Regions from separate parts of the Homo sapiens genome. Here regions 1 and 2 are each reported to be linked to region 3. The links are microRNA targets in miRTarBase. Many come from high-throughput screens and were not tested one by one. Region 3 holds a microRNA gene; each other region holds the end of a gene's coding sequence.
The links. The annotated mature microRNA hsa-miR-4518 reads GCUCAGGGAUGAUAACUGUGCUGAGA and lies in region 3 at 2,901-2,926, opposite strand. An mRNA with a match to its seed (bases 2 to 7 or 8) in the 3' UTR can be bound and repressed. Matches are read on the target gene's strand: a 7mer-m8 pairs with bases 2 to 8, a 7mer-A1 pairs with bases 2 to 7 and ends in A, and an 8mer does both.

Region 1: the mRNA of CASKIN2 is a reported target of hsa-miR-4518. Seed matches in the 3' UTR shown: 8mer at 6,219-6,226 and 7mer-A1 at 5,970-5,976.
Region 2: miRTarBase lists EEF2 as a target of hsa-miR-4518. Seed matches in the 3' UTR shown: 8mer at 1,265-1,272.

What each region holds. Positions count from the first base shown.
Region 1 is chr17:75,494,445-75,501,630 of GRCh38, forward strand. CASKIN2 (CASK interacting protein 2) reads right to left here. Exons shown (of 20, transcript NM_020753.5): 19 at 7,024-7,186; 20 at 5,817-6,726. The coding sequence ends at 6,636. TMEM94 (transmembrane protein 94) reads left to right here. Exons shown (of 32, transcript NM_014738.6): 19 at 183-364; 20 at 452-590; 21 at 840-955; 22 at 1,100-1,199; 23 at 1,522-1,630; 24 at 1,838-2,027; 25 at 2,286-2,363; 26 at 2,669-2,754; 27 at 3,337-3,418; 28 at 3,731-3,879; 29 at 4,000-4,094; 30 at 4,185-4,278; 31 at 4,468-4,638; 32 at 4,818-6,008. The coding sequence ends at 4,890. It overlaps MIR6785 (microRNA 6785), which reads left to right and starts at 4,104; the gene lies at 4,104-4,184.
Region 2 is chr19:3,970,524-3,977,709 of GRCh38, reverse strand. It overlaps EEF2 (eukaryotic translation elongation factor 2), which reads left to right. Exons shown (of 15, transcript NM_001961.4): 13 at 100-282; 14 at 363-495; 15 at 963-1,654. The coding sequence ends at 1,156. It overlaps DAPK3 (death associated protein kinase 3), which reads left to right and starts at 6,611. Exons shown (of 9, transcript NM_001348.3): 1 at 6,611-6,789. RefSeq lists enhancers at 101-310, 6,928-7,186 and a silencer at 6,627-6,756.
Region 3 is chr16:30,499,708-30,506,893 of GRCh38, reverse strand. MIR4518 (microRNA 4518) reads right to left here and starts at 2,975; the gene lies at 2,893-2,975. ITGAL (integrin subunit alpha L) reads right to left here. Exons shown (of 31, transcript NM_002209.3): 18 at 2,630-2,719; 19 at 1,594-1,650; 20 at 1,432-1,505; 21 at 38-179.

The DNA.
Region 1 (7,186 bases), not on the chromosome of region 3:
GACTGATGCATACCTTTCACTGTCTTTTCTCCTGTGTCTGTCGGCTCCTTCGTGTGTCTTGGCTGTGTGTGGTCCCCTGGGGCCCATATGCTCATTGATTTGGGTGTGGCATCTGTGTGTGTGGCCCTGGGCTGGTTCCTGGGTGTCCTGATCGGGCTGTGTCCTGTGTGTCCTGCCTGAAGAAGGGATCGGGGAGGTGCTGGAGAAGGAAGACTGCATGCAGGCCCTGAGCGGCCAGATCTTCATGGGCATGGTGTCCTCCCAGTACCAGGCCCGGCTGGACATCGTGCGCCTCATTGATGGGCTTGTCAACGCCTGCATCCGCTTTGTCTACTTCTCTTTGGAGGATGAGCTCAAAAGCAAGGTGGGGAGAGCCATCCCTTCTGCCACCACTAACTCTGTTTCCACGGGCTTTTGGGCCCGTATGTTCATGGCCGTCTGCCTTTCACAGGTGTTTGCAGAAAAAATGGGCCTGGAGACAGGCTGGAACTGCCACATCTCCCTCACACCCAATGGTGACATGCCTGGCTCCGAGATCCCCCCCTCCAGCCCCAGCCACGCAGGCTCCCTGCATGATGACCTGAATCAGGGTAAGGGCAAAGGCGTGGGGTGGGGACGGGGTGGCGGTGGGAGGATTCCCCTCCTCAGAGCCACAGCCAGGAAGAGCCTCCGGAGAGCCCTCCAGTTAAGTACATTCCCTTGGGAAATGGCTCTGATGTCCCTGCGGGAAACAGTAGTCAGCAGGAAGGAGTGGACACAGGCAAAAAATTCTCTGCAGGGCAAGGACAGGTTCCCAGAAGGCTGGTCCCAAGGTGAGGGAGAGGCTTTTGTCCCCACAGTGTCCCGAGATGATGCAGAAGGGCTCCTCCTCATGGAGGAGGAGGGCCACTCGGACCTCATCAGCTTCCAGCCTACGGACAGCGACATCCCCAGCTTCCTGGAGGACTCCAACCGGGTACGATGGCAGGATCTGTCTCACGTGTTCCTGTAGTGGTCCCATAGCTGGTCCAGGGGAGAGGTAGAGAGGTGGTGGGCAGGCGGTGGAGGGGAGGGATGCTGATCCCCATCCCGAAGCCGCTGGCATCTCTGCTTTCTCCAGGCCAAGCTGCCCCGGGGTATCCACCAAGTGCGGCCCCACCTGCAGAACATTGACAACGTGCCCCTGCTAGTGCCCCTTTTCACCGACTGCACCCCAGAGAGTGAGTGCTGTGGCCATGGGTACTTGGGCAACCTGGTCCCGTCGGCTGAGCTCTGCCTGGGCCTGCGTACCCCGTGGGCTCTGGAGGGATGTAGGTTTCCCATGCAGGGAGTAAAGGAACCTGGGCTGGGATCAGCTGGGGAATCTTGTGGGTTGGAGTCAGAAGTGCCGATGTTCACATGATCCCGCTGCCGGGGGTGGGATTGTTTCAAAGAGGGGCCCACCTCCCATCGCCTCCTGCTCTCCTGTCCCATGGGTCTCTGCCCAGTGCCCACTTGGTGCTCTGCCTGCCTGACTCTGGTGCCCTTATACGCTGTCCTCAGCCATGTGTGAGATGATAAAGATCATGCAAGAGTACGGGGAGGTGACCTGCTGCCTGGGCAGCTCTGCCAACCTGCGGAACAGCTGCCTCTTCCTCCAGAGCGACATCAGGTCAGGGCGGGACCCTGGAGCCTGCGGGCCAGCCTCTACCTCCCAGACCGGAGGATCAGATGGGCCTGCGTGGGGCTGGGGGTGTGTACTATAGCCGACCTCGCCCTGGCTGGGACCAATGCACCTGGGCATGGTGGGAGAAGAGGGTGGGGTGCCCAGTCCTGTGGGAGATACAGCTGAAGTGTGTGTGTCCCCCACCCTGAGCAGCATTGCCCTGGATCCCCTGTACCCATCCCGTTGCTCCTGGGAGACCTTTGGCTACGCCACCAGCATCAGCATGGCCCAGGCCTCGGATGGCCTTTCTCCCCTGCAGCTGTCAGGGCAGCTCAACAGCCTGCCCTGTTCCCTGACCTTTCGCCAGGAGGAGACCATCAGCATCATCCGGCTTATCGAACAGGTGGGTGCTTCGGCAGGCAAAGGAGGAGAGACGCAGGACAGGACCCGCCTGGGGTGGGAGTAGCAGCAAAGGACCTGTTTGAACCCGGGGACCTCATTCCCCAGCCCTCCGAGCGGGCTCTCCCAGGCAGTTACATTCGCCTCTGCTCCCCTCGTAGAAGCATCCTGGGCGTCTGGCTCTTGGCTAAAGTGTGTCAGCTGTTGGGCCTGGGAGAGGCCAGGTAGACCCAGGCCATAATCTGTCCCTCTTGGTCCCTAGGCTCGGCATGCCACCTATGGCATCCGTAAGTGCTTCCTCTTCCTGCTGCAGTGCCAGCTGACTCTTGTGGTCATCCAGGTGAGGTGGGGCCCGCACAGGCATTGCCCCCGTGCCACTCACCCCTTCACTCAGGGGCCAGCTGAAAATCTGAGGAAGGAGGCTGGGGTTAGCAGTACAGTCAAGGGGTCCCCCCAGAGCCTCTGTGAAGCCCCTGGGCTTTTTGAGCTGACCCTCATTGGCAGAAGAGTATTCCCTCCGGCCCCTGTTCCCTCTGGCAGGATGTGAGCATCTATCTGGGCCCAGGGCAAGGGAGCTCGGGGGCTCCTATGCCCTTATTATTTGCCTGAATTGAACTGTGGCTCTTGGCTTCTTTCCTGGTCTAGTTCCTTTCTTGCCTGGTCCAGCTGCCGCCACTCCTGAGTACCACCGACATCCTGTGGCTGTCCTGCTTTTGCTACCCTCTGCTCAGGTGAGATGCCATGTATCTTCCCCACACCCCATGCCTAAGCAGGAGGTGTCTGGATGTCACTGTGCAGCCCCAGGAGCCCAAGGTTCTGGAACTGCTCAGGTCTCACCTCCTCTGGTACAGGAGGCATGGAGGGAACCCCCTTTGTCTTTTTTTTTTTTTTTTTTTTTTTTTTTGAGATGGAGTCTCGCTCTGTCACCCAGGCTGGAGTGCAATGGTGCAATCTCTGCTCATTGCAACCTCCGCCTCCCGGGCTCAAGTGATTCTCCTGCCTCAGCCCCCTGAGTAGCTGGGATTACAGGCACCCACTATCATGCCTGGCTAATTTTTGTATTTTTAGTAGAGATGGGTTTTTGCCATGTTGGCGAGGCTGGTTTTGAACTCCTGACCTCAAATGATCTGCCCATCTCAGCCTCCCAAAGTGCTGGGATTACAGGTGTGAGCCACTGCCGTCCAGCCTTTGTTTTATTCCATCCCCTCACCAGACTCGACCTCACGCGCAAGACTCCCTAGAGGTTCCCTCTATGAGAATTGAGGGACAGAGGGTCATTGTCACCATCCCTCTACCTGATCTCTGCTTTTCAGCATCTCTCTGCTGGGGAAGCCCCCCCATAGCTCCATCATGTCTATGGCAACGGGGAAAAACCTCCAGTCCATTCCCAAGAAGGTAAGCAAAACAGACCCTGTGAGCCTTGCAAGTGAGCATGGAAGGGACTGAGGATTGGGGGAGGAGAGAGGGGCTAATCTGGAAGGCTCTGGATGGGGGATTCCAGCAGAACTCCGGCACTTGGTTCCTAGTCTTCCCCCAGATCAAAGAGGAGGTAGTGGCACAGAGCTGGGAAAGACCCTTGCTGGGGCTTGAGCTCCCTATCCCCCCAGGCCTGACCATTTACTAAGAGCCCGTTGAATACGTGGAAGAGCTAGGAGCAGCCGGCAGAGGGGCTGTGCGCCCCAGGAGTGACTGGCCTTGTTCCCGCAGACCCAGCACTACTTCCTGCTCTGCTTCCTGCTCAAGTTCAGCCTCACCATCAGCTCCTGCCTCATCTGCTTTGGCTTCACACTGCAGAGCTTCTGTGACAGCTCCCGGGACCGCAACCTCACCAACTGCTCCTCCGTCATGCTGCCCAGGTGGGTCCCAGCCCCAGAGATCCACCCATCGCCTGCCTCGCCTCGAGGCTTCCTCCCTCCCCACCCCAGCCTACCTCCCTGCGGCCCTAGAGGGGCTGAGCCCATGCCTCACTTTGGCAGCAACGACGACAGGGCTCCAGCCTGGTTTGAGGACTTTGCCAATGGACTGCTGTCGGCTCAGAAGCTCACGGCCGCCCTGATTGTCCTGCACACTGGTGAGAGGGCTCCCTGGGAGGGCGTGGATGATGGTGGGAGAGGAGCCCCACTGTGGAAGTCTGACCCCCACATCGCCCCACCTTCCCCAGTCTTCATTTCCATCACCCATGTGCATCGCACCAAGCCCCTGTGGAGAAAGAGCCCCTTGACCAACCTCTGGTGGGCCGTGACAGTGCCTGTGGTGTGAGTATTGCTAGGATGGAGGGCGGAGTGTGGGCTGGGGAGGAGAGGGCCTTCTGCAGGGCTAGGATCGGAGGGCGGGACCGGGGCCAGTGGTTTAACTGTACCCTGCCTGAGCTAACTGTTGTACTGGGAAGAGCAGGGAAGGAAGCAAGCAGTGTCGGGTTCACACGGGGCCGCCACCTCCTGCAGGCTGCTGGGTCAGGTGGTCCAGACGGCTGTGGACCTGCAGCTGTGGACACACAGGGACAGCCACGTCCACTTTGGCCTGGAGGACGTGCCCCTGCTGACATGGCTCCTGGGCTGCCTGTCCCTGGTCCTTGTGGTGGTGACCAATGAGATCGTGAAGCTACATGAGATTCGGTGAGCTGTCAGCAGGGCGCCTCCCTCTGGGCTCAGGCATGTTCCCTAAACCTGTTACTCCCTTGGCGACACTCCCCCACCTTTCCGCTGCCCATCCCTCCCTCCTCCTCTGGTGTCCTGCCCCGGCCCCTGGTCTAAGGATCTTTGCCAACCTGTACTTTAATCTCCTGCCCCACCAGGGTCCGAGTCCGCTACCAGAAGCGACAGAAGCTGCAGTTTGAAACTAAGCTGGGCATGAACTCTCCCTTCTGAGCCACTGGCTGTGGTGGCTGTAGTTGCCCCCGTCCCTGGGGCTAAAGCCAGACCCATTTCTGAACAGGGGAGTTTGTATCATGAATGTTTCCAGGTTTGCTCCTGCACCCGTGGCACTGGAAACCCAGCTCCCCGTGTCAGACCCCGCTGTCTTCCTGAGCCCTGGGGCTCACTGTGGAGGAGCTGACGGCCTGGGCCCTTGGCCAGTCCTGGCTCTTCCCTGGGCCTCACCAGGGACACTCTTGAATGTATGGCCTCAGGCGCTCCCTAGAGGGGCCCTAAACCCCCTCACCTGTGAGCTACCCCCTTTAGGGATCCCTTGCCCCCTTGGAGATCCCTTGCCCCCCAGTGCCTCTGCTCGTGGGTCCCTGGACACGGCCTTGAAGCCAACCTTCTTTGGAGGAGCAACAGCAGCAGCCTTGGCCGACGCGTCCAACTCCCAAGGCTGCCGTGGAGGGCAGGGGGGTGGTGCTTGCCTGGATGTGGCCCCGAGTGCCTCCCCTCCCTCCCTCTGTGGGGGAGTCTCCCGCCTGAACCTGAAGATGGAGCAGGGCCCCCGCTTCGCCCTGGAGCCTCTTCCTGTGCCTGGCTCAAGCTGGCTGCCTGTCAGTCTTGGGGAATCTGGCCCAGGTCTCCTCAGCCTCTGCCCCAGTTCTGGGAGAAGTTTCTACTGGTGTATATTTTTTACTGGAAATGAGCCTTTTAGGAATGAATGTAGACTGGTTTGTATTAAAATGTGTCAATTGCTAAGAAATACCTGTGGCTGGTCTGTAAGGCCACTCCAGGGTCTGCCCACCCCCGGCGGTGGCTGGCAAAGGGAGGCCTAAACCTTCCTCCATCTACGCGGGTGGGTCCCTCAGGTCTGGCTCAGGCGAGACCCCTAGGGTCAGGGGTCCCCATGTCACAGAGGCAAACACACAGCCCAGTCACGTGGAATGGTGTTTTCATTGGTGTTAGTTGGGGGAAGAGGTTAATGGTTACAGAGCCAGGGCCTGGGCCAATGGGGTCAGGCTCTCCCTGCCCTCAGGTGGGCAGTCGGGGCTCCTGCTGTGGTCCGAAGCCCCTCCCCCATTGTGTCCTCTCAGGCAGTTGATAGAATAAATTCCATTTAAAATATATGCATTTCTCTCTGCTTAGAAAATAACATTTACAATTGAAAAGTTAGGACTTGTGGGATCTGTTAACCCCACTGCCTCCCACCCCTGCTAGCCCTGCCTCAGTGAGGGAAGGCGGGGGCAGGAGCTGCCTGGGCACCACCGCTGTGTATTTACATGTCCTCTGTACACCTACGGAGAGGGGGCCCGGCCAGACACACGCCTCCTCCAGCCTCTCAGGGCCTGGGCAGGATGGTGGGTGGCAAGAGGCATTCCCTTGGCACAACTTGGGACATGGGCTGGGGGGTACAGAGAAAGCACCCCCAAAGCCCCACCCCTACTTCCTCCCTGAGGAGAGAGCTCTTACCAGGGTCCCTGTCCAGGAGCAGGGCTGTCCTGCTCAATCGATCAAACCCTGGGAGGGGCTTTGCTGAGATGCAGCGGAGGTCCCTCGCTAGTCAGGTTCTAAGGTGGGCTGCCCCACAAGAGCTGTGGTGCCCACAGCCGCGGGCTGAGTGGGAAGGGGCCCTGCTAGGAGGGGCACTTCAGCCTGACCAGCCCTTGGCCCGTCCCTAGGGTGGCAGGGGCCTCTTCTGTGCTGGGGCAAAGGCAGTGGACTTCGGCAGGTCACAGTGGGCACTGCTGGAGGGCTCAGTCCAGCATGGCGTCCAGCTGGTCAGCCAGGGCGTCGAACATGGTGCTGATGTCATCCAGAATGTGCTTGGTGGAGGCGCTGGGGGTGCTGCAGCAAGGGGAAGGATGCGGTCAGATCAGCCAGTGGCCTGCACCCCACTGGCCCTGGGGCAGGGAGCTGTCATAGCTCCCAGAGGCTCAGGGAGGCAAGGGACCGGCCAGGCTCCTGTGCCTCTTAAATGGTAGCCACCAGGATTCCCTGATCTAGGTGATTTCAACACCTGGCCTCTTATCCCGTTAGTGCCTGCAATGTCCCCCTCCAACATCCCCATGATCCCTGGGCAGAGGATGCAGGGAGCACTGTTTCTCTGCAGCCTTCTCTCCCTCCCCATCCGGCCCCCCTCACCCCTCTTGCTCCTTGGTGCCAATGCTCTTCTCTGCGGCTCTCAGTGCAGCTGCCAGGGACGAGCTGGTCTGCTCCAGTCTCTGCTGGGCCTGGCCTGGGCCCACAGTCCCAGTGCTCTCAGGCCGTGGAGGAGGCACTGGGCGGGGGCCGAGCCGGGGCGCTA
Region 2 (7,186 bases), not on the chromosome of region 3:
CCCCAGGTCCCCCTGGTGGAGACCTGCAGGACTTGGCAGGTGGAGGGCAAGCAGCCGAGGTGTGTCCGGCCCTTGACGGTGGCTCTCCCCCTCCCCCAGGGCGCACTGTGTGAGGAGAACATGCGGGGTGTGCGCTTCGACGTCCACGACGTCACCCTGCACGCCGACGCCATCCACCGCGGAGGGGGCCAGATCATCCCCACAGCACGGCGCTGCCTCTATGCCAGTGTGCTGACCGCCCAGCCACGCCTCATGGAGCCCATCTACCTTGTGGAGATCCAGGTGAGGTCTACCCGCCCACCGCTGACCCTGCCACCGTCCTGCCCAGCGGCCACTGACAGGTTTTCTTTCCCTTCTGGCAGTGTCCAGAGCAGGTGGTCGGTGGCATCTACGGGGTTTTGAACAGGAAGCGGGGCCACGTGTTCGAGGAGTCCCAGGTGGCCGGCACCCCCATGTTTGTGGTCAAGGCCTATCTGCCCGTCAACGAGTCCTTTGGTGAGTGCCTGCCCGGTGTGGCCTGCAGAGCCTGGCAGGCTGGTTTGGGGGACAGAAGCCCAGTTAAGCTTAGCAAGGTGTTAAAGGAGGCGTCCTGATGGGAGCAGGTGATGGATGGAGCAGGTGGTCCAGTTTCTGACAGCTTGTGGACCCCCTAAATCACTGAATTCCCAGGGGAGGGGCTCTCCTATCCCCAGTGTGAGAAGGGCTCTGGGCCTGGAGCTCTGAAGGCCTACGCCCTGGGCCGGTAGAGCAGCCGAGCTGTAGCACAGGGTTGTCCCAAACGAGCAGCGGCATGAGGCCCATGAGTGGCCTGCTAGGCCCTTCGTGAAGTGCTGGGCACCAGGCCGAGTGTCTGGTCTGCAGGGTGACTCAGGCTGAGGAACTAGCCTGAGCTCCTGACAGGACTTTCCTTCTGCCCTGCCACCTTCTCGATGGCCCAGTGAGCCTCTCGCTTCCCTCTGCAGGCTTCACCGCTGACCTGAGGTCCAACACGGGCGGCCAGGCGTTCCCCCAGTGTGTGTTTGACCACTGGCAGATCCTGCCCGGAGACCCCTTCGACAACAGCAGCCGCCCCAGCCAGGTGGTGGCGGAGACCCGCAAGCGCAAGGGCCTGAAAGAAGGCATCCCTGCCCTGGACAACTTCCTGGACAAATTGTAGGCGGCCCTTCCTGCAGCGCCTGCCGCCCCGGGGACTCGCAGCACCCACAGCACCACGTCCTCGAATTCTCAGACGACACCTGGAGACTGTCCCGACACAGCGACGCTCCCCTGAGAGGTTTCTGGGGCCCGCTGCGTGCCATCACTCAACCATAACACTTGATGCCGTTTCTTTCAATATTTATTTCCAGAGTCCGGAGGCAGCAGACACGCCCTCTTAGTAGGGACTTAATGGGCCGGTCGGGGAGGGGGAGGCGGGATGGGACACCCAACACTTTTTCCATTTCTTCAGAGGGAAACTCAGATGTCCAAACTAATTTTAACAAACGCATTAAGAGGTTTATTTGGGTACATGGCCCGCAGTGGCTTTTGCCCCAGAAAGGGGAAAGGAACACGCGGGTAGATGATTTCTAGCAGGCAGGAAGTCCTGTGCGGTGTCACCATGAGCACCTCCAGCTGTACTAGTGCCATTGGAATAATAAATTTGATAAGGTGGTGACTCTGTTCTGCATTTTTCACGGTGTCTTCGCAGGGGAGCGGGGCTGCCCAGTACTGGGCTCCCTGGAGCCTAGAAGGGGACCCGGGCCCTAGTTAGGTGCAGCCTGGGGCTGCCTCAGTGTTAGGTGGAACGTTCTGGAATGGTGGGAATGCCCTACCCCTGTGTCATTCAGAGAAGCAGCTGCCAGCTGCGCGGGTCTGCTGAGCATTTGAAGTAGGATCAGTGCGGCAAGGAATTACGAGATGTCACTTTGAACGCATTTGGATGGCCCTGTGGAGCGAGGGGCTCTGGATTGAACTTCGCAGGTTTCAGCAACTTTCCGAATTGCTGACGAGCTCACAAGTTCTATCTGCCATCAGGATTTTCTGTGGTCACCCCAGTCCTGACTAGTTTATTAGAAACCCATTTTTTTTTTTTTTTTTTTTGAGATGGAGTCTCACCGTTTGCTAGGCTGGAGTGGAATGGCACCATCTCTGCTCACTGCAACCTCCACCTCCCGGGTTCAAGCAATTCTGCCTCGGGCTCCTGGGTAGCTGGGATTACATGCGTGTGCTACCACGCCCAGCCAATTTTTATATTTTTAGTAGAGATGAGGTTTCACCATGTTGGCCTGGATGATCTTGATCACTCGACCTTGTGATCCACCCGCCTTGGCCTCCCAAAGCGTTGGGATTGTACCACTGTGCCCGGCCTTGTAAACACTTTTTTAGAGGCAGAGTCTTGCTGTCTCCCAGATGAGTATAGTGGTGCAGTCAGCTCACTGCATCCTCCACCTCCTGGACTCTCCTGCCTCAGCCTGCCAGGTAGCTGGGACTCCAGGCATGTGCCACCATGCCCAGCTAATTTTTATTTATTTTGAGACAGAATTTTGCTTGGCCTGGTTGGTCTCGAACTCCTGACCTCAAGTGATCTGCCCGCCTCGGCCTCCCAAAGTGCTGGGAATTATAGGCGTGAGCCACTGTGCTGACCTAATTTTTACTTTTTTTGTAGTAATGGGGTCTCACTATGTTGCTCAGGCTGGTCTCCTTCCCGGGCTCAAGCGATCCTTCTGCCTCAGCCTCCCAAAGTGCTGGGATTTCAGGTGTGAGCGCCAATAGCTTAGAAAACTATTTGTTTTTCTAAATAGTGCCTAAGATGTGAGGAGGCCTAATCTTGTCAGTGCTGATAAGGTTAACATGATCATTTTCCGCCTTTTACTCTGTCCTCAGGAAGGCAGGTGGGGACTGTGAAGTAGGGCTGTGGGGTTCTCGGCAAAGGCGGGGGCAGCTCTGGCCCTGCATTGTCAAGGCCAAGCCTCAGCTGAGGTTTTGCCCACATGTAGGTATGCCTGAGGTTTGGTTTGGCTGTCGCATTTGAATTGGGGCTGTAACTGACGCTGTTTCCAGCAGTCAGGGTAACGGATTACTGTGTTTCGAGAATCTCACTCTATCGCCCAGGATGGAGTGCAGTGTTGTGATCTTGGCTCACTATAGCCTCTGCCTCCGGATTCAAGTGCTCAAGCAATTCTTGTGCTTCAGCCTCCCGAGTAGCTGGAATTACAGGCGCCTATCACCAGGTCTGTGTAATTTTTGTATATTTAGGTGAGATGGGGTTTCACCATGTTGGCCAGGCTGGTCTCAAGCTCGACCGTAAGAGATCAGCCCGCCTCAGCCTCCCAAAGTGCTGGGGTTACAGGTGTGAGCCACCATACCGGGTCCTATTCTTTTTTAGTAGTGCAAACGTTAAGATGGTATGTGGAAGCTGAATTTTTTTTTTTTTTTGAGACAGTCTTTGCTCTGTCACCCAGGCTGGAGTGCAGTGGCTCAATCTTGGCTCACTGCAAGCTCCGCCTCCCGGGTTCACGCCATTCTCCTGCCTCAGCCTCCCGAGTAGCCGGGACTACAGGCGCCCGCCACCATGCCCGGCTAATTTTTTGTATTTATTAGTAGAGACAGGGTTTCACCGTGTTAGCCAGGATAGTCTCGATCTCCTGACCTCGTGATCCACCCGCCTCGGCCTCCCAAAGTGCTGGGAATTATAGGCGTGAGCCACTGTGCTGACCTAATTTTTACTTTTTTTGTAGTAATGGGGTCTCACTATGTTGCTCAGGCTGGTCTCCTTCCCGGGCTCAAGCGATCCTTCTGCCTCAGCCTCCCAAAGTGCTGGGATTTCAGGTGTGAGCGCCAATAGCTTAGAAAACTATTTGTTTTTCTAAATAGTGCCTAAGATGTGAGGAGGCCTAATCTTGTCAGTGCTGATAAGGTTAACATGATCATTTTCCGCCTTTTACTCTGTCCTCAGGAAGGCAGGTGGGGACTGTGAAGTAGGGCTGTGGGGTTCTCGGCAAAGGCGGGGGCAGCTCTGGCCCTGCATTGTCAAGGCCAAGCCTCAGCTGAGGTTTTGCCCACATGTAGGTATGCCTGAGGTTTGGTTTGGCTGTCGCATTTGAATTGGGGCTGTAACTGACGCTGTTTCCAGCAGTCAGGGTAACGGATTACTGTGTTTCGAGAATCTCACTCTATCGCCCAGGATGGAGTGCAGTGTTGTGATCTTGGCTCACTATAGCCTCTGCCTCCGGATTCAAGTGCTCAAGCAATTCTTGTGCTTCAGCCTCCCGAGTAGCTGGAATTACAGGCGCCTATCACCAGGTCTGTGTAATTTTTGTATATTTAGGTGAGATGGGGTTTCACCATGTTGGCCAGGCTGGTCTCAAGCTCGACCGTAAGAGATCAGCCCGCCTCAGCCTCCCAAAGTGCTGGGGTTACAGGTGTGAGCCACCATACCGGGTCCTATTCTTTTTTAGTAGTGCAAACGTTAAGATGGTATGTGGAAGCTGAATTTTTTTTTTTTTTTGAGACAGTCTTTGCTCTGTCACCCAGGCTGGAGTGCAGTGGCTCAATCTTGGCTCACTGCAAGCTCCGCCTCCCGGGTTCACGCCATTCTCCTGCCTCAGCCTCCCGAGTAGCCGGGACTACAGGCACCCGCCACCATGCCCGGCTAATTTTTTGTATTTATTAGTAGAGACAGGGTTTCACCGTGTTAGCCAGGATGGTCTTGATGTCCTGACTTCGTGATCTGCCCACCGTGGCCTCCCAAAATGCTGGAATTACAGGCGTTAGCCACCATGCCCTGCCACTTTTTTTTCTTTGAGATGGAGTCTCCCTCCGTCACCCAGGCTGTAGTATAGTGGCATGATCTCGGCTCGCTGCAACCTCCACCTCCTGGGTTCAAGCAATTCTCCTGCGCTAGCCTCCCGAGTAGCTGGGATTACAGGCATGTGCCACCAGGCCTGGCTAACTTTTGTATTTTTAGTAGAGACAGGGTTTCACCATGTTGAGCAGGCTGGTCTTGAACTCCTACTTCAAGTGACCTGCCCGCCTTGGCTGCCCAAGCTGTTGGGATTACGGGCGTGAGCCACCACACCTGGCCAACCCATTGTACGTTGAAAATGTAAATAAAAAATATAAAGGCCGGCTTGTGGCTCACGTCTGTAATCGCAGCACTTTGAGAGGCCGAGGCCGGCGGATCACAGATATTGAGACCATCCTGGCCAACATGGTGAAACCCTGCGTCTACTAAAAATACAAAAATCAGCTGGGAGTGGTGGCGTGCACCTGTAGTCCCAGCTACTCGGGAGGCTGAGGCAGGAGAATCGCTTGAACCCAGGAGGCAGAGATTGCAGTGAGCCCAGATCTCACCACTGCGTTCCAGCCTGGACGATAGAAGGAGACTGTCTCAAAAAAAAAAAAAAAAAAAAAAAAAGGCTGGGCAAGGTGGCTCATGCCTGTAATTCCTGCACTTTGGGAGGCCGAGGCGGGCGGATCAGGAGGTCAGGAGATCGAGACCATCCTGGCTAACACGGTGAAACCCTGTCTCTACTAATAAATACAAAAAATTAGCTGGGCGTGGTGACGGGCGCCTGTAGTCCCAGCTATTCGGGAGGCTGAGGCAGGAGAATGGCGTGAACCTGGGAGGTGGAGCTTGCAGTGAGCCGAGATTGTGCCAGTGTACTCCAGCCTGGGTGACAGAGCGAGACTCCGTCTCAAAATAATAATAAAAAATGAATTTAGGCCGGGCGCAATGGCTCACGCCTGTAATCTCAGCACTTTGGAAAGCTGAGGTGCCGGATCACCTGAGCTTAGGAGTTCGAGACCAGCCTGGGCAACATGGTGAAACCCCGTCTCTACTAAAAATACAAAAATTAGCCGGGCGTGGTGATGGGCACCTGTAATCCCAGCTACTTGGGAGGCTGAGGCACGAGAATCGTTTGAACCCGGGAGGTGGAGGTTGCAGTGAGCTGGATACCGCCGCTGCACTCCTGCCTGGGTGACAGAGTGAGACCCTGTCTCAAAAAATAAAATTAAAAAAAAAACAAACCTGATACCTCCCAGTGTTGTCAGTTGGCACATACTATGTCTCAATAAAATGCTTGCTGTTACCCTCTATTTTGAGACGAAGAGGGACCCTGTGTATGACAACCCCAGATTGACCTCATTTGCATTTTAAGTATTTAGAATGTGGGTAACAGTTTTCAGTGGAGGAAACTGCCACATAGGGACTAAAGCAGTCCCAGGGTCCACTCCAGGAGCTGCCAGGCGCGCTCGGCCACAGGTGAGCCATCCATTCGCCCAACCGGTGCTCCAGGAAGGCAGGAAGCGGGATGCAGGGCTTCAGCCTCACTTCTCGCAGCTTCAGCACCTGGGTCAGAGGAGAGGCGGGCGGGGCGATGAAGGGACCGGAAGTCGGCCTTTTTTCCGTCCGCTTGACCAGCGTCGACTGCAGCCAATGAAATCAGGGATGGCGAGTGTTCAGCCAGTGGTGAGGCTGCATCCGGGTGTGGGTGCCGAAAAGGCAGCTGGGGGCGGGACGTCGAGGTGCGGCACGAGCGGCGGGCGCACCGGCCAATAGGCGGCGGGGTTCGTTTCCCGGGGGTGGGCACTGGCGGGTGCGGTGACGTCGGCGCAGGCGCGTCGCGGCGGCAGGGGCGCGGGGCTTCTGGAGGCGGCGGCGGTGGCCAGCGCGGCGGCGCCGGCCGTATTCTCCGGGCTGCGGAGGGTAAAGAGCGGGCTCGGGCCGAGGCTGGAGGGCTGGGTGGGGCCAGAGCGGCGCTTCGGGGGCCCGCGGAGGACGAGGGAGGGAGAGAATCTGAGGAGCTGGTAGGTTTGGGGACCCATCTGGGTGACCGGGCCGGGGAAAGGGCTCGGCCGGGCGTGCGAGGGGCGTAGCGGCCCCAGGGATGCTGGAGCGGAGCCTTAGGGATGGGCAAGGCCTTGGGGGCGGGGGGAGGTTCTGCAAAGGGAGCCACTGGGGTCTGCCTAGGGGCTTGTGCGGAGATTGCGGGCGAGAAGGGGCAGAGGACGGTGGAGGAGACTCAGATGGGGCCCTTTTTGGCGGCCCGTTTTGGGGGGTAGGGGAGACGGCGGTTGGGGGACTTTGATACATGGAGCGTGGAGGAAGAGGTTAATCTTGCGAGGACAGTGGAGGTCAGCGGGGGAGGGAGGCAAAGTGGGCTTTCAGGAGCGTGGAAGGCGTCGTCCGGTTCTTGGAAAATTC
Region 3 (7,186 bases):
ACAGATGCCCGCAGGCAGGCGCTGTCCTCTCACCCACCTTCAGCATCTCCACCTTGCGGAAGGAGAGTCCCGGGGGGAAGTGCAGGTCCAGCTGGACCCAGTAAGCATCTTCTTCCAAGTTACTCAGGCTCAGCTCCACAGAGAGGCTGGCAAAAGCAGTTAGACGCAGGGCTCTGGATCTGTGGGGGATGATCAGGGAAAGATGGAGGAGGGAGGATCAGGGTGGGGAATATCAGAACTGAGGGATCTGGTGGGCCAGAAAGAAATAAATCAAAACCAATCATCTTTTATGCTCAGTCTTTTTTTTTTTTTTTTTTTTTTTTTTTTTTTTTTTTGAGATGGAGTCTCACTCTGTCACCCAGGCTGGAGTGCAGTGGCGCGATCTTGGCTCACTGCAAGCTCCGCCTCCCGGGTTCACGCCATTCTCCTGCCTCAACCTCCCGAGTAGCTGGGACTACGGGCGCCCACCACCATGCCCGGCTAATTTTTTTTTTTTGTATTTTAAGTAGAGACGGGGTTTCACTGTGTTAGCCAGGATGGTCTCAATCTCCTGACCTCGTGATCCGCCCGCCTCGGCCTCCCAAAGTGCTGGGATTACAGGCCACCGCCCCCGGCTTTTTTTTTTTTTTTTATTGAGACAGAATCTCACTCTGTAGCCCAGACTGGAGTGCAATGGCACAGTCTCGGCTTACTGCAACCTCCACCTCCAGAATTCAAGCAATTCTCCTGCCTCAGCCTCCCAAATAGCTGGGATTACAGGCACGTGCCACCATGCCTGGCTAAGTTTTGTATTTTCAGTAGAGACAGGGTTTCACCATGTTGGCCAGGCTGGCCTCGAGCTCCTGACCTCAGGTGATCTGCCCGCCTTGGCCTCCCAAAGTGCTGGGATTATAGGCGTGAGCCACCGCGCCAGGCCATGCTCAGACTTTCAGTTTTACAATTCTTGCAATCTCATTTACTGATGACTGATAGGAGTTCCATGAGGGATTTGCTTTTTATTTTATTTGCTTTTTATTTTTTAGAGATAGAGTCTTGCTCTGTCACCCAGGCTGGGGTGCAGTGGTGCTTACTGCAGCCTCAAACTCCTGGCTCAAGCCATCCTCTGCCTCAATCTCCCAAGTAGCTGGGAATACAGGCATGAGCCACCGTGCCCAGCTAATTTTTAAATTTTTTTTTAGTGACAGGGTCTTGCTATGTTTCCCATAGCTGGTCTTGAACTCTTGGCCTTAACGAATCTTCCCCCTTTGGTTGGCCTCCTGAAGTGCTGGGATTATAGGCATGAGCCCCTGAGTTCAGCCTCAAATTTCTCAGAAAAGGAAACTAAGGCCCAAGAGAGGGAAGTGGTGTCTGCAAATGACATATCTGGTGAGTGGAGTGGGGGGTCTTAAAACAGAGTGGATGGGAGGCTGGAGGGTGGGAGGCCTTACTGACCTTGCAGGAGAGAAGGACACTCTCAAGTTTGCCTCACACTTCTTGTCCTCCCCACAGTTCTTCTCAAAAGGGATCTGAAACACCAAGAAGAAAGGAGTAACAGGCTCAGATCAGGAGGGACTTGTTCCCAGGCCTCTCTGCCTGCCCCTTCTCCCCTCTTACCTCCCAGGTTTCCGAGTGCAGGGAGGGTCTCAGGATGGGCGGTATGTCCTTGCCCTGCTGAGCGAGGGGTAGTGGGCAGGATGGAGAGAGGAGAGATTAACTGAGGCAGCAGACCTCATGAAGGAGAGCTGGAGGGGCAGGGGCTTAGCTCAACTGGGCTGGCTGTGGTTGGCCCTGCCCAGGAGCCAGCTGCCTTTCCAGGGCTGCCCCACTCTGCTGCCTCAGCCTACTGCCATTTGTGCAGTCTTACTCTGCTGGCAGCTCTTTTTTTTTTTTTTTTTTAAGACTGTCTTACTCTGTTGCCCAGGCTGGAGTGCAGTGGCACAATCTCTGCTCACTGCAACCTCTGCCTCCTGGGTTCAAGCGATTCTTATGCCTCAGCCTCCTGAGTAGCTGGGATTACAGGCATCTACCACCACGCCTGGCTAATTTTTTAAAAATATTTTTAGTAGAGATGGGTTTTCGCCATGTTGGCACACTGGTCTCGAACTCCTGGTCTCAAGCAATCCACCCCCCTCAGCCTTCCAAAGTGCTGGGATTACAGGTGTGAGCCACAACACCCGGCCGGCTCTTTTTTTTTTTTTTCTTCTTTAGAGACAGGGTTTCGTGCTGTTGCCTAGGCTGGAGGGCAGTGGTGCAATCATAGCTCAATAGCTCACTGCAGCCTCAACCCTCTGGCTCAAGTGATCCTCCCTGCTCAGCCTCCCAAGTAGCTGGGACTACAGGGGCGCACCATCACAATAACTAATTTTTTATGTTTTGTAGAAAGGGAGTCCCACTATGTTGCCCAGGCTGGTCTCAAACTCCTGGCCTCAAGTGCACCATCACACCCGACTAATCTTTGTATTTTTAGTAGAGATGGGGTTTCACCATGTTGGCCAGGCTGGTCCTGAACCCCTGACCTTAAGTGATCCACCCACTTCAGCCTCCCAAAGTGCTGGGATTATAGGAGTGTGCTGCCCGGCCATGGGCGGCTCTTCTTGCCAAATGGATTTCTCTGATAAACTCCCCACCATCCCTAGCCATCTCTTCTTACCGCCCTTTGGTCCCTCGGTGTCCCTTCCTCCTCCCAAAGAGAGAAATTCAGGGAAACATTGATGGGGGAGATGAGGTCTTGAACACATACCTGAGGGTGATAAGAATACAGCCTATGTCATGAATCTAACTTTTACCGCACTTCCGATTAGATGTATACCTTGTCAGCATTTTACAAGTGATGAAATTCTGGTAGTTCTTTGTCTAAGACCCTACCAGTATTGAAAATCCATTGACTACATAGCAGGTGTGTACAGCACACCCAGGGGGCTTCTCAGCACAGTTATCATCCCTGAGCCCCGGTTCCCCAGCAGACATCACTAATCAATCCCAGCACTTTTCCCCCACTGTGTCCTAACTGAAGCCCCTGAATTTTGACCTAGGCAGCCATTATCAAAGTTTGCTTAAGAAAATTTCAGAATAACTAGAATATCCTAGTTCTAGAATTTTGTTCCTTGAGAATAGGGCTGGGTCTTAGTCATTTGCTATTACCAATGCCTGACACTGGCATTTTGTAGGTACTCAAATTGTTTTTCACCTGAAGGTTCTACTAGCCCTAAGAGGTAGGTATTATTACCCCAACATTTAAAATAAGGAAAATGAGCTCTCCCTTCCTTCCTTTTCTTTCTTCTCTTTTCCTTCCTTCTCTCCTTCTTTCTTTTCTTTTTTTCTTTCTTCTTTTCCCTCCCTCCCTCCTTGCCTGCCTCCCTCCCTCCCTCCCTTCCTTCCTTCCTCCGTTGTCCTTCCTTCCTTCCCTCCTTTCTTTCTCTTTCTCTTTCATCCTCCCTCCTTCTGTCCCCCTCTAGAAAAGAAAAAAAAAAAAAGAAAATGAAAACTAAAAAGGTGGCACAGTTGTCCTAAGAGCTTGGAGTGACAGTCAAGATTTGAACCCAAATCTGTCCAAATCCAAAGTCCAGGATCTTTCCACCATGTCACACTGCTTTCTTTTCTGGCAAATTTATGTTTAAAATGTCTAAATCTTATAAGAGGTGGAATGGGAGTAGGCAGAGGGGCACTGAGTAGAGGTTTGAATGAAATAGAGGGTGAGTCGATAATTGTTGAAACTGGGTGATGAGGACCTGGGGATTCATTAAACTATTTTTTTTCTAGTTTTGTGTGATTCATATTCTCATAATAAAAAGTTTAAAACAGGCTGGGTGCAGTGGCTTACACCTGTAATCCCAGCACTTTGGGATGCCGAGGTGGGTGGATCACCTGAGGTCAGGAGTTTGAGACCAGCCTGGCCAACATGGTGAAAACCCATCTCTATCACAAATACAAAAATTAGCCAGGCATGGTGGTGTTCACCTGTAATCCCAGCTACTTGGTAGGATGTGGTGGGAGAATTACTTGAACCCAGGAGGGCAGAGGCTGCAGTGGGCCCAGATCATAACAATGCATTCTAGCCTGGGCAACACAGTGAGACTCCATCTCAAAAAAAAAAAAAAGTTTAAAACAAACTTCAAATTCTTATGTCCCAATCCTATACTGTCTTATATGAATTTTTTTTTTTTTTTGAGATGGAGTTTCACTATCATTGCCCAGGCTGGAATGCAATGGCACAATCTCAGCTCACTGCAACCTCCGCCTCCTGGGTTCAAATGATTCTCCTGCCTCAGCCTCCTGAGTAGCTGGGATTACAGGCGCCTGCCACCACACCTGGCTAATTTTTTGCATTTTTAGTAGAGATGGGTTTTCACCATGTTGACCAGGCTGGTCCTGAACTCCTGACCTCAAGTGATCCGCCCACCTCAGTCTCCCAAAGTGCTGGGATTACTGGCATGAGCCACCATGCCTGGCCTTTTATGAAATATTTAAGAGAACATAACAATTTGATATCAATCCTTTTTTTTTTTTTTTTTTTTTTTTGAGATGGAGTCTTGCTCTGTCGCCCAGGCTGGAGTGCAGGGGCGCGATCTCGGCTCACTGCAAGCTCCGCCTCCCGGGTTCATGCCATTCTCCTGCCTCAGCCTCCCAAGTAGCTGGGACTACAGGCCCCCACCACCACGCCCAGCTAATTTTTTGTATTTTTAGTAGAGACGGGGTTTCACCGTGTTAGCCAGGATGGTCTCAATCTCCTCACCTCGTGATCCGCCCACCTTGGCCTCCCAAAGTGCTGGGATTAGAGGCGTGAGCCACCGCGCCCGGCCATATTAATCCCATTTTTATACAGGATTGCTTATAAGCAACTGAATCTGGGTATTTCAACAGTTGTTCAAACTTTATTGTTTTGGAGACAGAGTCTCATTCTGTTGCCCAGGCTGGAGTGCAGTGGCACAATCACAGCTCATTGCAACCTCCACCTCCTGGGTTCAAGCAATCCTCCTGCTTCAGCCTCCCAGGTAGCTGGGACTACAGGTGCGCTCCACCAAGGCTGGCTAATTTTTTGGTGTTTTTTGTAGAGAAGGGGTCTCGCTATGTTGCCCAGGCTGGTGTTGAACTCCTAAGCTCAAGCAATCCACCTACTTCAGCCTCTCAAAGTGCTGGCATGAGCCACCGTGCCTGGCCTGTTTTAACTTTTTTAAAAACTTTTTTTTTCCATGTACCATACATGAGACTTAATTTAAAAACTTTAAAAAATCCCTAAGTTTTTCTGGGATGCATGATATGTACCTGGCAAATAACAACATACCATGATGATTGAATATTCTGTAAAAATTAAATATTTTAATTTTTTTTTTTTTTTTTGAGATGGAGTTTCACTCTTGTTGCTCAGGCTGGAGTGCAATGGCACGATCTCGGCTCACTGCAACCTCCATCTCCTGGGTTCAAGTGATTTTCCTGCCGCAGCCTCCCAAGTAGCTGGAATTACAGGCATGGGCCACCACGCCCAGCTAATTTTGTACATTTTTAGTAGAGATGGGGTTTCTCCATGTTGGCCAGGCTGGTCTTGGACTGCCAATCTCAGGTGATCTGCCCACCTCGGCATCCCAAAGTGCTGGGATTACAGGTATGAACCACCGTGCCCAGCCAAACATTTTAATATTTCATAATTAAAAATTATGAAAGCTGTGTAGCAGCATTAATATATAATGTATGAAAAGAGTAGGGAAAAATAGTAACTACATTGCCATTGTAATCATGTTAAAAATGCCCATAAATATATTAAAAAGTAGAAGCTGCTGGGCACGGTGGCTCATGCCCGTAATCCCAGCACTTTTGGAGGCCAAGGTAAGAGGATTACTTGATGCCAAGGGTTTTAGACCAGCCTGGGCAACACAGCAAGACCTTGTCTCTACAAAAACTATTTTTTTTTTTTTTGAGATGGAGTTTCACTCTTGTTGCCCAGGCTGGAGTGCAATGGCACGATCTTGGCTCACTGCAACCTCTGCCTCCTGGGTTCAAGCAATTCTCCTGCCTCAGCCTCCCAAGTAGCTGGGATCACAGGCATGTGCCAACACACGCAGCTAATTTTGTATTTTTAGTAGAGATGGGGTTTCACCATGTTGGCCAGGCTGGTCTCGAACTCCTGACCTCAGGTGATCCACCCACCTTGGCCTCCCAAAGTGCTGAGCCACCGCGCTTGGCCTACAAAAACATTTTTAAAAATTATCCAGATGTGGTGGTGCATGCCTGTAGTCCTAGCTACTCGGGAGGCTGAGGTGGGAGGATCATTTGAGCCCAGAAGTTGGAGGCTACAGTGAGCCATGATTGCATCACTCCACTCCAGCCTGGACGATAGAGCAAGGCCCTGTCTCTAAAAAAATTTTTTTAATAAAAAATTAAAAAAATTAAAAACCTAGAAGCAGCCAGGCACAGTGGTGTGCACTTGTAGTCCCTGCTACTCAGGAAGCTGAGGCAAGAGAACCTCTTGAGGCCAGAAGTTAGAGTCCAGCCTGGGCAACAAAGTAAGACCCCCATCTCTAAAAATATAAAATATGGCCGGGGGCAGTGGCTCATGCCTGCAATCCCAGCACTTTGGGAGGCCGAGGTAGGAGGATCACCTGAGGTCAGGAGTTCGAGACCAGCCTGGCCAACATGGTGAAACCCCAACTCTACTAAAAATATAAAAATTAGTTGGGCATGGTGGCATGCACCTGTAATCCCAGCTACTCGGGAGGCTGAGGCAGGAGAATCGCTTGAACCCGGGAGGCAGAGGCTGTAGTGAGCCGAGATCATGCCACTGCACTCCAGCCTGGGTGATAGAGCGAGACTCTGTCTCAAATAAATAAATAAATAAATAAATAAATAAATAAATAAATAAATAATATAAAATAGGCCAGGAGCGATGGCTCATGCCTGTAATCCCAGCACTTTGGGAGGCCAATGCAGGCAGATCACCAGAGGTCAGGAGTTCGAGACCAGCCTGACTAACATGGTGAAACCCTATCTCTCCCAAAAATACAAAAATTAGCTAGGCATAGTGGCAGGTGCCTGTAATCCCAGGTACTCGGGAGACTGAGGCAGGAGAATTGCTTGAACCCAGGAGGTGGAGGTGGCCATGAGCCGAGATCGTGCTGTAGTAAGTGAGACCGTGCCACTGCACTACAGCCTGGGTGACAGAGCGAGACTCTGTGTCAAAAAAAAAAAAATATATATATATATATATATACATATA